2 separate regions of the Homo sapiens genome follow, and region 1 is linked to region 2. A link means that fine-mapping ties the variant in region 2 to the expression of a gene that starts in the linked region. Tissue or cell type: thyroid. Region 2 holds a variant in brackets; the other region holds the start of a gene. All regions are shown on one strand. Distances are between the middles of the regions.

What was found. PIP is the estimated chance that this variant, and not a neighbour inherited with it, causes the effect.
Region 1: it holds the start of ERCC6, and the variant in region 2 is fine-mapped to the expression of ERCC6 in thyroid (GTEx, PIP above 0.99).

The regions. Positions count from the first base shown.
Region 1 is chr10:49,536,006-49,544,055 of GRCh38, reverse strand. ERCC6 (ERCC excision repair 6, chromatin remodeling factor) reads left to right here and starts at 4,935. Exons shown (of 21, transcript NM_000124.4): 1 at 4,935-5,094. RefSeq lists enhancers at 4,253-4,492, 4,523-4,582, 7,825-7,884, 7,915-7,964 and silencers at 5,003-5,292, 6,238-6,426.
Region 2 is chr10:49,461,594-49,469,108 of GRCh38, reverse strand. All of the region lies in intron 18 of ERCC6 (ERCC excision repair 6, chromatin remodeling factor), which reads left to right. Among named protein-coding and RNA genes, the nearest start is that of PGBD3, 59 kb to the left of the region's middle. The variant G/A (reference allele first, on the strand shown) is at 4,929.

The DNA.
Region 1 (8,050 bases), 75 kb before region 2:
CCTCAAGAGTTATGAATGTCCCTCACCATAGTGATGCCTTCTGACTGAGCTCCTCACTACCCTGAATACAAGAGACCATAATAGTTAGGTAGGAGTAGCATAGCCCTTATTCAGCTTGAAGAAGTTACAGAAGATGGATCTTTGTCCCTCTACTACCCTTTGGATTAGGCGTTCCCTTGTAAAAGGGAAGGGAGAAATATGTCAGAGGCATTTGAACCAGAGTGATTCCATCTTGAATTGGGGCTGGGTGAAATAAGGCTGAGACCTACTGAGCTGTATTCCCAAGAGGGCAGGCATTCTAAGTCACAGGATGAGGTAGGAGGTTGGCACAAGATACAGGTGACAAAGACCTTGCTGATTAAACAGTTTGCGGTAAAGAAGCTGGCCAAAACCCACGAAAACCAAGATGGCAATGAAAGTGATGTCTGGTCATCCTCACTCTTCCTTATATGCTAATTATAATGCATTAGCATGCTAAGAGACACTCCTATCAGCACATGACAGCTTACAAATGCCATGGCAATATCAGAAAGTTACCCTATATGGTTTAAAAATGGGAAGAACCCTCAGTTCTGGGAATTACCCACCCCTTTCCTAGAAAACTCAGGAATAATCTACCCCTTCTTTAGCATATAATCAAGAAATAACTATAAGTATTCTCATCAAGCAGCCCAAGTTGCTGTTCTGCCTATGGAGTAGCCATTCTTTATTCCTTTACTCTCCTAATAAACTTGCTTTCACTTTACTCTATGGACTTGCCCCGAATTCTTTCTTACTCAAGGTCTAAGAACTCTCTCGGCATCTGGATCGGGAATCCTTCCTGGTAACAGTTCACAATGGATGGTTTTATACATTCATTGCTTTTAAGCTTGCTGATTCATTTATTCAACATACATTTAACATGTTTTTCTAGTGGTTGCCAACACAGTTCTAAATAATATGCTTTTGCTTCTTTTTTGATTTATAATTTTTACAAAGTATTTATTGTGTTTCCAATACATCTAATTATTTTTCATGAGTTTTCCCCATTTATAAGGATCAGAGAACCAAACCGGTTTTGTTGCACTGCCGTTACCCAGAAGTTTTGAAAAGTGAGAGTCAACTCAGACCTCTGTTCTGTAGGTCATTGGGAGAATTCCTTATATTGAACACGAAATGTGAAATAAAGGCGCAAGGATGAATATCGTCATAGTTAAACAAGTTAACATTAGTAAAGCACTCAAGACAATGAAACCACCTTTGCAAAAATTATATCAGTTAGAAAATTATGACAGTGAAAGAGGTCTGAGTTAACGCCCCCATTCCAACACCTATCTTGCCTTTCCCTTAATTATTTCTAAGCTACTGGGGCCAGCTAACTTTGAGAGACATTTAGGCTATAGTTTACATGATAACAGACCTTGCCTGAAACTCAACTGTTTTTGTAAAGCTAATGGGAAGCTATCAGGCTGTGGGGGAGGAGAGGAGCCTGAGTCCTGCTAAGGCGCAGATATGAACGATTGTCAGTCATTATTCTGGAGGTTATAAGATACTCAACTTTCCCAATTACTCCTGCAAATAACACCACTGATATGGTTTGGCTGTGTCCCCACCCAAATCTCATCCTGAATTGTAGTTTCCATAATCCCTACATGTTGTGGGAGGAAGCCGGTGGGAGATAACTGAATCGTGAGGGTGGTTACCTCCATGCTGTTCTGATAGTGAGTTCTCACGAGATCTGATGGTTTTATAAGGGGCTTTCCCCCTCCTTCACTCTGCACTTCTCCTTGCTGCCACCATGTGAAGTAGGACATGTTTGCTCCCCCTGTCACCATGATTGTAAGTTTCCAGAGGCCTCCCCAGCCATGCTTAACTGTGAGTCAATTAAACCTCTTTCCTTTATAAATTACCCAGTCTTGGGTATGTCTTTATTAGCAGCACGAGAGCAGACTAATACAACCACTATTTGTAGCTTTTTGAGATATCTTTCCAGGTTTTTTGCATGTCTGACACCCATGGCTCCACCTGGACCGCCAACCCCACTCCCACAGCCCCACCCAGAAGTGATTCAGACTGCAGGAGGACAGCTTTGACTCCCCCTATGATTTCATCTCAGCCTCAACCAATCAGCAGCAAGCACCTGTTACCTGGCCACTCCCACCCCTTCCTCCAAACTGCGTTTGAAAAACCCCCAGCCTATGAGCTTCGGACTTTGGATCAGATGACCTGAGCATGCACTCCATCTCCCACCTGGCATGGTCGGCCTCGTGTCTATTAAGCTCTTTTTCTACCACAATGCTATGGTCTTTCTTTATGCAGTGGGCAGGAAGAACCCCTTGGGTGGGGTGTTTAAAATAATGCCCAGCTTAGAGTAAGGGCTAGGAAATGGTAGGGAAAATGGATTAAAATCCAAATCAATAACTACTATAATAATGACATTAGAAATATTGGTTTGGGGGTACACAGGAGATGCAAGAGCCTATTGCTGTCAGAGGGTAGGGGAAAGCTTCAGAAAAGAGAAACTTTGTCTGAGTTTGGAATGGGTAAGAGAATTCTAAGCAGAGGGACCTGCTTGTAAGATCACAGAAGTGACAGAATAACAAGTAGGGGTATGTGGGAAAAGATTAATAATTGCCTCTCCCCCAAAGTTCCAGTTTATAGTTTGTCCATTTCTGTGGTATAAATACTCCTACTATGGCTGATTTCAAGCTATTAATGTGAAGTCAACAAAGGCAGAGTTGGTGCTATGGGCTAAACTGGGTGCCCCCCAAATTCATATGCTGAATCCCTAACCCTCAATGTGACTATTTGGAGACAGGGTCTTTAGGCAGCAAATCTGGTTAAATGAGATCATAAGGGTGAGTCCCTAATCCAATACGGCTGATGCCTTAGAAGAAAGGGAAGACAGAGCCCTCTCTCTACCCCATGTAAGGACACAGTGAGAAGGTAACCATTTGCAAGCCATGAGGAGAGCTTCCCCTAAATGAGCTAAATCTGCCTGCATTTGATCTTGGACTTCCCAGCCTCCAGAACTATGAGAAACAAATGCCTGTTGTTTAAGCTGCCCAGTCTATGGCATTTGTTATGGCAGCCTGAGCTAAGGCAGCTGGGAAGAGGTGAACAGTATGCTTGCTAGGCCGTAGAAGCCAATTGTAGCACACCCTTCCTGGGAGAAGAGTAAGTAGTTCCCTAAATCCTGAGCATAGGCATCCAGGGAGTGAAGGACACAAGTGATGCAGAAAAATTAGATGGGGCAGGAGTATAAAAGGGCTTGGACGACTTGCTAAATAACTTGGGACCTCATTTAACTAAATTCCCTCATTAAAGACCCTATCTTCAAATACAGTCACATTCTGAGGTCCCGGGGTGGGGGTGGGGAGTGGCGGTTAGGACTCCAGCATATGAATTTTGGGGAGGGGACACAATTCGGCCCTTAATAGCTCCAGTTGTGCCACCCTGAGTTGTTTTCCTGAACCCCGCCCACGTCTTTGTAAATAATAACTCTCAACTTCCCCTTTTGAGTGGACCATTTTTTCCTGTCCAAATTCTGATATAGGAAGGGTCTCCAAAATAGCTGCAAAGGGAACCTCAGTCTCAAAAGTTGGGATCCACTATATATCTGCTTTTACTTTCAAGCATTGAAACTAATGTCAATCAACTGCCTTTCTATTCTTAATATTTTATCCAAGAAATCGCTAGAATTCTTTCTCCTTTAAAAAAAAAAAAAAGCAAGTTACAAGCCGGGCGTGGTGGCTCACACCTGTAATCCCAGAACTCTAGGAGGCCGAGGCGGGTGGATCACCTGAGGTCAGGAGTTCGCGGACAGCTTGGCTAACATGACGAAACCCCGTCTCTACTAAAAACACAAAAATTAGCTGGGCATGGTGGCAGGCGCCTGTAATCCCAGCTACCCGGCAGGCTGAGGCAGGAGAATCGCTTGAACCTGGGAGGAGGAGGTTGCAGTGAGCCCACATCGTGCCATTGTACTCCATCCTGGGCGACAAGAGCAAAACTCCGTCTCAAAAACAAAAACAAAAACAAAACAAACAAAAAAACCCACTACCACCAACAAAAACAAGTTACATTGTGGGTTGGGGCCGCTGACAGGAGGAATAAGATGATGTTATGGAGCATTTCCTAGTCCCCTTTCCGACCCCATTTCCCTATTGTCCGACTTCAGGCTTCCAAGTGAGGACAGCACTTCCCAGGCAGTGACCCGCAGTCACTGCCCTCCCAGAGGACGTCCTGCCTCGCGGCCCTGGAAAGTCCACCTTCTCCTAGCACCGATCCTGAGCTGAGAAGCTCTGTCTGGTACAGCCATCCTGCATCGTGGGCTGCTTCTTTCCCCAGGCGAAGCTCAACTTCCTCCCATTGTTCTGAACCTCTGTGTGGACATCTTCTTTCTTCAAACGCACCACGGTAAAATTCTCGCCTGCCTCGAAACCCCGCCTACCTCTGAGATCTGAGGACGGATACTAAACGCTGGACTTAAGGCAATGTACACATGTAAGCAGGCTCTGTAGGCACTCACTCCGCCCAGGTGCGCGCGTGGCGGAGGGGGAACAGAGAAGCAGGACAGCTCTCCATCCTTCCCGTGTTCAGTCGTGGGAGACAACAAGAGAGGTCACAGCCTGGCGACCAAAAAGTGCGGCTAACTTCCCTGCCCAAGCTGACTTTCTCTGCAGGGTTCAAGGTTAATTGTGAGGATTTACATTCGCATGGCACACCCGCATCCCCCTCTACGTGGAAATATGTCTTAACTTTCATAACTGCCTTGCCAGCAGGGTATTTTTCGCTAGGGGCGAAGCGTCCTTCGCAAGCCACCCAGCTGACCGGCAGCGGAGACAGCTTTCTCGCCCTGCTCGCACGCAAGTAGAAAGGCGCTGCTGAGCCCGTCCCTCCAAACCACGTGGTCTTGCCCGTGCTTAAAAACAAACGCTGAGCCAGGCGCATGCGCCACGGGCCTCCCCGCACCAGCAGAAGTCGGAGTCGCTGTTGGGGGCGGTGTCTATGGTTGAGCTGAGGGCGCAGGCGCCACGGCCCGTCGAGCTGGGTTCCAAGGCGGCTGGCGGCGGTAGCGTCTCTGTTTCCTTGTGGGCGCTCGCGCGGCCCTGGGTGAGTGTTCGGGGGTCCCGGCCGAATGTCGGGCAGGGGGTGTCGGGGCCCAGCTCAGGCTTCTCGGGCGGGCCGCGGCCCCGCGCCTTGGCCTCGCCGTGGTGATTGAGCCTGTCAGCGAGGACGCACTGTAGCGGGTCTTAGGGCCAAGTGCCCGCTTCCGGCGGCCTCACCTGAGACCGGAAGTAGCGCCAAGGAGCGCTCACCTGAGGCGGCTTGAGTCCCTGGCCGGCCAGCGACCCAGCTACTTCTCCGACTTTGTATAAGGCCCCCTGCGCGCAGGGTCAGCTGGGTCCTTTTTGATCTCGATTAAAATGCTGGAGCTGTTATTTTAAAGAGAGTCGGGCTAGATGTACGTCCGACGTTTTGGGCGTTGATAGAGTCAAATTGATAAGAGTGTGGGCGGATGAGGCAGGCCGCCTGTAAATGCTGCTGTTACGTGACTTCCACGCAGCGTCTTAACTGCTGTCATCCTGTGACAGGCAGCCCTCGCTTTTCTCCTCAACTTTTCCCATCATCTTCTTGTTGCTTTGTCTCCTCCAATCCATTATCCGCACAGTTGTCCAGGTGGTCTCTGGCATAAAGTAGGTCATGCCATCATCAGCCTACTTAACAGTTTTCAGAGTCATTCCATTGCACTGGGAGTGGAATCCATGCTCGTGTTTTCCCAGGCCTTGTGTGATTTGGCCCTTGCCTGTCCCCTCTCAGAACTGTGCCTGTGTCCGACCAACCCTCCAAATGAGACCCAGCTTGCCCCTGGCTGCGGGAGCCCCAGTGATGGGGGAGGACGGTGAAGATACTAGTGTCCCAGATGATTAAGCCTTAGAAGATACTCTGCAAGACTTAGGCCATGAACGGAGCCCTTCTCTGCTCTTCTTAACTCAAAGTTAAAAATAAAGTCAAAAATTCGGTGTTCCAGCCTTCTTGCATTTTCACAAGTGCATCAGCTCTTTCTAGTCTTAAAAGTTACGCACGTTGTTGGGAGGCCGAGGTGGGTGGATCACCCGAGGTCAGGAGTTCGAGACCAGCCTTACCAACGTGGTGAAACCCTGTCTTTACTAAATACGAAAAATTAGCCGGGCATGATGGCATATGCCTGTAATCCCAGCTAATCGGGAGGCCAAGGCAGGAGAATCGCTTGAACCCGGAAGGCGGAGGTTGCAGTGAGCCTGGCGGAGCCTGGCGGAGGTTGCACTCCAGCCTGGGCAACCGGAGCGAAATTCCGTCTCAAAAAAAAAAAAAATTTCACACGTTGTTTCCTTGCAAGACGTTCACTTTACTTTCGACCTGACTGACTTATCAGATGTCACTTTATCAGAGAGGCCTCCTTGACCCCACATCTACCTCCACAATTTCAATTTGGTTTCTCTCATTTTGTCAGAAAGCCTTGTACTTTCCTCTTAACAGCAGTCACCACAATTATATTTGTGTGTGTGTGTGTGTGTGTGTGTGTATGTGTATATATATATATATAGTTTTTAAATGTCTGTTTTTCCCATGAGACTCTAAGCTCTTTGGGGACAGGAATTAGTTAACCTAGTACATTGCCTGGTGTAATTAACTCTCAGTAACTATTTGTTAAATGTATGATTTCTTTCTTTCTTTTTTTTTTTTTTTTTGAGACGGAGTCTTGCCCTGTCGCCCAGGCTGGAGTGCAGTGGTGCGATCTCGCTCACTGCGGCCTCCGCCTCCTGGGTTCAAGCGATTCTCCTGCCCCAGCCTCTCGAGTAGCTGGGATTACAGGCGCGCGCCTCCATGCCCAGCTAATTTTTGCATTTTTAGTAGAGACGGGGTTTCACTATGTTGGTCAGGCTGGTCTCGAACTTCTGACCTCGTGATCCTCCCGCCTCGGCCTCCCAAAGTGCTGGGATTACAGGCATGAGCCACCGCTCCCGGCAAATGTATGATTTATTTCACTTCTGAAATTCTTTAACCTGATAAGAGCCTTCTGGTTTCCAACTCTCACTTCCAGAAGACTTGGTTTTCTGGCCATTGCCAGATACTAAGTGACTTCTTGAACCCTTTCTCCCATTTCCAGGCCCCTTCTGTTTTTTTGTTTGTTTGTTTTTGTTTTTTTAAACCTACCCAGCTTGGACCCTGAAGTCAGTTGCTTCAGCTACTCTTCTCAGCATCTTCAACCCCGTGACTCTTTTGCGCTACCATTTCTGCTCTGAAAACCCTCAATAGTGACATTTCCCCCAGGACTACTGAAGGAGGAGATTGTTCAGCCCTGGAGATTGTTAGCAGTCTATGGCTTTGCAGGGCTGGGGAGATCCTCAGGTAGGTCCTCCACAGCAATCATCAGTGTTTGTTCCCTGTCAACTCCCTTTTCTCTTGTACAGGACATTTATTCCAGACTCTTAGTCTTTAGCCCCAGTGCCAACTTTGTCTCCTGACTCAGGAACTGCCCAACTTGCTGCTTTGTGGGATATTTTGTCTGTAATCCACTTCAGCTTCCCTCCTTTCCACCTGCAAATTTAGATCTATCAGGAATCCTCCTTCTGCCAGAGTCCGAGAAAGATGTGTTGTGCCTCCTGTTCATTTCTGCTTGCGACCTTCCACTTTTGCTGTCTCTTTTGGTACACCTTTCTGGGTTATCTCCTCTGTCTCCCTCCAGCCATTACGTGCTCTAGTTTTTCTTGCCCTAGTTCTCTCCCTACCCCCAACAAATCCATTATTACTTTATCACTGTAGCTGTCTCCCTGCCAGAGGCAAGCTCTTTAAAGGACAGGCCACTCTCTTGTGGCCTCCATTTCCTCATCCACTCCTTACACACCAACTACATTTCAACCACTACAGTCTGGTTTTTGGCCCTATCGCTCCACTGAAACTTTTTTATTTTTTCGAGACAGAGTTTCACTCTTGTTGCCCAGGCTGGAGTTCTGCGGTGTGATCTCAGCTCACTGCAACCTCTGCCTCCTGGGTTCAAGCGATTCTCGTGCCTCAGCCTCCCGAG
Region 2 (7,515 bases):
CAGTTATTACTACAATGGTTGCCAAATGGTGATTAACATTCTATTGTAAGGAAGGTTTTCCTTCTCTCTTATTTATTTATTAATTTATTTTTAGATCAGTGTGGACTAATGGATTCTTTTTTTTTCCATGACTGTAATCCATTAGTAGGGGTATTATGATGCTCGTATTGTCTTAGATTTGCCTCATGGGTGGGAGCTCCTTCAAGCTGGCTCCTTTGTCCCTCTGGTATGTCCCCACCATTCTTTGAGCACCTCCTTTCTTCTTGGCATACTAATATATGCTGAGCTCAATTTGTATTCTGTGCCAGCCCTGGAATCAGCCATTTCTTCAAGGAACCCTGGAGAATGGTATTTAGGAACTAGGATCCGGGTTCTCAGAGTGTTCATTGCTGCTATTATGTCATTGCTTTCGTAGCCAATAGTATCAGGAAATAGATGTATGTATGTGTGTGTATGTGTTTGTTGTGTACATACATATACACATACATACGTGCATATATATGCACAACAAATTGCACAGATACACCTGTCTCTATGTCTGTGAAAACCATGAATTTGGCTTCCAGCAAAGGCAGATTAACATTTACCCTTCCATGTGAAACAATGAAAACAATGACAAAACATATGAAGCAATGGTTTTCAGACACCAAAGGGCAGTGATCTCTTGAGAGATGGGAAACAAATGAACTGAGCTCTCCAGTTGCCCTGCCCTACTGCCTTGAGAGAATTTTCGTGCTGTAACAGAAAGAGGGAGAACCCAGATGGGAGTCCAGGCAGACCCTCTGTTGAAAAGGCAGAGCTGAGCATCAGGGGAGGCCAGGGTGGCTGGCATTCACATGCAAGAGACGATAGCGGAGACAGCTCTGCACAGGGAGAGAACCCCACAGGTCTGCAGAGTCTCCACTGGCACTCAGCTGAATACTGACCAGCACATTGTGCAAGAAAACTACTTAAGGTCAGTGAAAAGGCCTTTCCTCTTTAACTTTTCGAATTAGAGGAAACATGTCTGGTGCTCACCCATGGCCAGGGATAGTGCCTGTTCCCACCAGCTAAGACTGGAAAAATATTTCATGGGGCATTGGGTATGATACAGAGTAGGGGGTCTTGCCTCTGTAGTAGGGAATGATCAGCCTTAGAGTGAGCACTGCTTCAGCCCTACCTGAGTGTTTACAGGAATATACAAATACCCAACATCCAACAAGATGAAATTCACAATGTCTGGAACCCAATAAAAAATTACTGGCTGGGTGTGGTGGCTCAGCCTGTAATCCCAGTGCTTTGAGAGGCTGAGGTGGGTTGATTGCTTGAGCCTAGGAGTTCAAAACCAGCCTGGGCAACATAGTGAGATCCTATCTCTACAAAAAATAAAAAAAAAAATAGCCGGGTGTGGTAGCATACACCTGTGGTCCCAGCTACTTGCGAGGCTGAGCTGGGAGGATTGCTCGAGCCTGGGAGGTTGAGGCTGTGGTGAGCTGTGATCATGCCACTGCACTCCAGCCTGGGCAGCAGAGCGAGACCCCATGTCAAAAAATAATAAAATGTATAACCCAATTTTTTAAATGGACAAATAATTTGAACAGACTTCACCAAGAAAGATATGTAGATGGCAAATAAATATATGAAACTTGTTAATATTATTAGTTATTAGGGAAATGCCAATTAGAACCATAACGAGATACCACTATACACCCTCTAGAATGGCTAAAATGAAAGAAGACTGACCATACTAAGTGTTGGTAAAGATGTGAAGCAGTTGGGTCTCATACACGCCTGGTGGGAATGTAAAATGGCACAATCACTTTGGAAAACAGTTTGGCAGTTGCATGCGCTTTCCTTGTGATATAGCTTTTTCAGTCCTGGGTGTGTATTTGCCCAAGAGAAATGGAAAAATATGTCCATACGAAGGCTTGTACATGAATATTCGTAGCAGCTTTATTAGTAATAGCCAAAAATGTAGAAATCAAATGTCTACCAACAAGTAAATAGTTAAACTAACCATGGCATATCCATATGATCAAATACTAGTCGACAGGTGGGGCTTGGCTCACGCCTGTAATCCCAGCACTTTGGGAGGCCGAGGTGGGTGAATCACCTGAGGTCAGGAGTTCGAGACCAACCTGGACAACATGGTGAAACTCCATCTCTACAAAAATACAAAAATTAGGCATGATGGTGGGTGTCTGGAATCCCAGCTACTTGGGAAGCTGAGCGGGAGAATCGCTTGAACCTGGGAAGTGGAGGTTGCAGTGAGCCGAGATCACACCATTGTACTCCTGCCTGTGCGACAGAGCAAGACTCCGTCTCAAAAAATATATATACTAATCAACAATAAAAGGAAGTAGAGTATTGATACATGCTACAGCATGGATGACTTTCGGACTAGTAAGATTAGTACATACTCTGATGCCGTTTGCATAAAATTCTAGAAAACACACAGTCATGACAGAAATTGGATTGGTTGTCTGGGCATGGGGTATTTGACGGTGGGATTACAAAGGGACATGAGTTTTGCAGGTGACGGCTATGTTCATTGTCTTGATTGTAGTGATAGTTTCATGGTATGTACATAATGTCACAACTTACCAAATACTGTACTTTAGCAGTTATTGCATATCAGTTACACTCTAATAAGCTCCAAAAAGCAAAATAAGATGAGGGAATACTGTTGTCTCCAATTTCATTTCAGCACCCTAGGGCCCTTTCCATGTTTGTAGCTTCCTTCTTCAAGACCTTCATTCACAACGTACTGAGTTACTTGTCAATCCTAGGATACATGGTAGCTTTTTACAATTTCTGACCTGAACTATGGCAAGAAACAGTTATACTAACTAGAATTCAATATTTGTTTTTATTTATACTAACTAAAGTTCAATATTTGTTTTTATTTCTTTTTGTCTTTAGTCTAAGTTTTTGGTCAAAACACTACTTGAGTCAAAAATAACTTAGTTCTTTTTTCTCACCCTTCATCATATTTTCAGTGTGTGCTATCAGTTTAAAATACAGTTAGGTTAATTTATTTGTTTGTATTCCACTTTAGGGTTTCCTCCCATCCTTGTTGACTCTATGTTATCTTCTGAGTAGTAACACATTAACATAGTAACAAAAGACAAAATATGCAAAAAGGAATACCAGAGTAGTGTCATCCCCCACCCTGTCCCCACCCCTTCCTTACCTTACCAGTCTCATGAGTTTCTGGCATTTCCTTCATGTGTTTCTGTGTTAGTCTGTTTTCACACTGCTGATAAAGACATACCAGAGACTGGGCAATTTACAAAAGAAAGAGGTTTAATTGACTTACAATTCCACATGACTGGGGAGGCTTTACAATCATGCAAGGAGGAGCAAGTAACATCTTTCATGGATAGCAGCAGGCAAAGAGCTTGTGCAGAGAAATTCCCATTTTTAAAACCATCAGATCTCATATAAGACTCATTCACTAGTACAAGAACAGCACAGGAAAGACCCAACCCCATAATTCAGTCACCTCCCACCAGATTCCTCCCATGACATGTGGGAATTGTGGGAGTTACAATTCAAGATGAGATTTGGCTGGGACATAGCCAAACCATATCTTTCCACCTCTGGCCCCTCCCATATCTCATATCTTCACATTTTAAAACCAATCATGCCTTCCCAACAGTCCCCTAAAGTCTCAACTCATTTCAGCATTAACTCAAAAGTCCACAGTCCAGAGTCTCATCCAAGACCAGGCAAGTCTCTTCTGCCTATGAGCCTGTAAAATCAAAAGCAAGTTAGTTACTTCCTAGATACAATAGGGTTACAGGCATTGGGTAAGTACAGCCATTCCAAATGGGAGAAATTGACCAAAACAAAGGGGCTATAGGCCCCACACAAGTCTGAAGTCCAGCAGGGCAGTCAAATCTTAAAGCTCCAAAATGATCTCCTTTGACTCCTTGTCTCGCATCCAGGTCACGCTGATGCAAGAGGTGGGTTCCTATGGTCTTGGGCAGCTCTGCCCCTTTGGCTTTGCAGGGTATAGCCCCCCTCCTGGCTGCTTTCATGGGTGGCATTGAGTGTCTGCAGCCTTTCCAGGTGCATGGTGCAAGCTGTCAGTGGATCTACTGTTCTGGGGTCTGGAGGACCGTGGCCCTCTTCTCATAGCTCCACTAGGTGGTGCCCCAGTAGGGACTCTGTGTGGGGACTCCAACCCAACATTTTCCTTCTGCACTGCCCTAGGAGAGATTCTCCATGAGAACCCTGCCCCTGCAGCAAACTTCTGCCTGGGCATCTAGGAGTTTCCATACATCTTTTGAAATCTAGGCAGAAGTTCCCAAACCTCAGTTATTGACTTCTGTGCACCCTCAGGCTCAACACTGTGTGGAAGCTCCCAAGGCTTGGGGCTTGCACCATCTGAAGCCACAGCCTGAGCTCTTTGTTGGCCCCTTTCAGCCACAGCTGGAGTGGCTGGGACACAGTACACCAAGTCCCCAGGCTGCACACAGCATGGGGACCATGGGCCAGGCCCGTGAAACCACTTTTTCCCCCTGGGCCTCTGGGCCTGTGATGGGAGGGGTTGCCATGAAGGTCTCTGATATGCCCTGCAGACATTTTCCTCATTGTCTTGGGGATTAACATTTGGCTCCTCGTTACGTAATGCAAATTTCTGCAGCCAGCTTGAATTTCTCTTGAGAAAATGGGGTTTTCTTTCCTATCACATTGTAAGGCTGCAAATTGTCCAAACTTTTATGCACTGCTTCCCTTATAAAACTGAATGCCTTTAACAACACCCATGTCACCTGTTGAATGCTTTGCTGCTTAGAAATTTCTTCCGCCAGATACCCTAAATCATCTCTCTCAAGTTCAAAGTTCCACAGATCTCTAGGGCAGGGGCAAAATGCCGCCTGTCTCTTTGCTAAAACATAACAAGAGTCACCTTTGCTCCAATTCCCAACAAGTTCCTCATCTCC[G/A]TCTGAGACCACCTCAGTTTGGACCTTACTGTTCATATCACTATCAACATTTTTGTCAAAGCTATTCAAGAAGTCTCTAGGAAGTTGCAAACCTTCCCACATTTTCCTCTCGTCTTCTGAGCCCTCCAAACTGTTCCCATCTCTACCTGTTACCCAGTTCCAAAGTTGCTTCCACATTTTGGGATATCTTTTCAGGAGCGCACCTCCCCACTGGTACCAGTTGCCTTTATTAGTGCATTTTTATGCTGCTGATAAAGACATTACCCAAGACTGGGCAATTTACAAAAGAAAGAGGTTTAATCAACTTACAGTTCTGTGTGGCTGTGGAGGCCTCACAGTCATGTCAGAAGGCAAGGAGGAGCAAGTCACATCTTACATGGACGGCAGCAGGCAAAGAGAGCTTATGCAGGAAAACTCCCATTTTTAAAACCATGAGATCTCATGAAACTCATTCACTCATGAGAACAGTGTAGGAAAGACGCATCTTCATAATTAATCACCTCCCACTGGGTTCCTCCCATGTCACGTGGGAATTGTGGGAGTTACAATTCAAGATGAGATTTGGGTGGGGACACAGCTGAACTATATGTTTCTTTTGTAGAAATAAGCAGGCACATGTATAATTTTATATTCCCTTATTCTCTTACACAAAAGGTTGTATACTATATTATCTTCTGTTCCTTTTTTTAAAAAAACTTCATATATCCTGACAGCCACTGCAGTATTAATTAACAGAGAGCTATTCCTCCTTTAGCAATTTTTATTGCTAGAGTGCTCTGCTATGTTGACCCAAAACCTGAAATCTAAAATGCTCTAAAATCCAAAACTTTTTGTGCACTGACATGATGCCAGATGTGGAAAATTCCACACCTGACTTCATGTGATGGGTCACAGTCAAAACACAATTAACACTTTGTTTCCTGCACAAAATTGATAAACGTATTATATTAAAATTACCTTCAGGCTATGTGTGTAAGGTGTATGTTAAAAATATATACATTTTGTGTTTAGACTTGGGGCCCATCCCCAAGATGTCTCATTAGGTATATGCAATTATTCCAAAATCTGAAAAAGGCAAAATCTGAAGCACTTCTGGTCCCAAGAATTTTGGGTAAGAGATATTCAACCTGTACCACAGTTTATCCACATATGAGGATTTAGATTTTTTATAGCTTCTTTTAGCCACAGTGCTGCACTAAATAATCCTGTGCTTATACAAGAGGAATTGCTAGATCAAAAGGTAAACACATATGTAAGTTTGTTTTGTTTGTTTGTTTGAATAATGCCCAACTCCCTTTTGTAAGGTTTAGATCAATTTGAATTGTCACGAGCAGTTGTTGCCCAGAGGCTTGTCAAGAGTGTGGTGTTACACTTTTAATTTTTCCCAATCTGATAGGTGAGAAAGGATATCTTAAGTTTTAATTTCCAGTTATTTTCTTTGAGTGAAATTGAACTTTTTATAGGACCATTTATATTTAAAAAATTTTTCTTTCTGTGAACTTGTCTGTTCATGTCTTTTGTCCATTTTCTAAATCAGGTTTTTGGTCCCTTTTTCCCCTTGGTTTTAAAGAGTTCTTTATATATTAGGGATGTTAGCTTTTCATTTTTCATATATGTTACAAGTATTTCCTCATTGGTTGTCCTTTATTATGATTTTTTTCCTATGAAACAGGTTTTTTTTTAAAAAAATTGTCAGTCTTTTATTAATTGGAATTGTAGTTCTAAGCCTTTTCTACATATAGATCATATGATAATTCGCCATGTTTTCTTGTACTACTTGTATGGTTTTGCTTTTTACATTCAGATTTCTGATCCATTTGGAGTATGAGGTGTGGATTTTATCTTGGTTCAAAGATAAAATGCCCCAACGTTTGTGCCCCAACGTTTGTAGCATCATTTATTTCAAATAAGTTTTTCTCAGTGATTAGAGATGCCTTTATCATGTAGTACATTTCCAAATGCAGTTCAATCTATTTCTATTTTCTGGTCAATCTCCTGTTGTGTCTCTTCTTTCCTCAGCACCAAACTGTTGTAATTGGAGCGTGTTTTATTGTCCAATAGGGTGTTACTTTGCCTTTTCAGTGTTTTCTGATCTGTTCATGAAGGTTTATTGTTCTGTATGAACTTTAGTGTCAGTTTGTCTAGCTTCATAAGAAAGGTTGACATTTTTATTGAGATTACATTAAACATATAAATTAACTCAGGGAAAATGGTTATTGAGTCATTCTACTCAAATGCAAGGGATGTCTTTCTGTTTGTTTAAGTCTGATAGTCTATCTTCCCAGGAGTGTTTTCATGTCTTCTCCATATAGGCTTTACACATTGCTTGGGTTTATTCCTAAGTGTTTGGTCTTTTCTGTTACTGTAAATAGAATTTTCCCACCATTATATTTTTAGCTGGCTATTGTTTGTAAATAGGAAGGTTATAGGTTTCTGTGTGTGAATTTTATATTTTTTATGTTGCTTGAATTATCTTACTATTTTTTATCATTGATTCTCTAGGGTTTTCTAAGTGTACTATCACTTTGTTTTTGTCTACTACAGTACTGTACTTATACAGAGGAGAAAAGTGTCTTTCTTGCATACA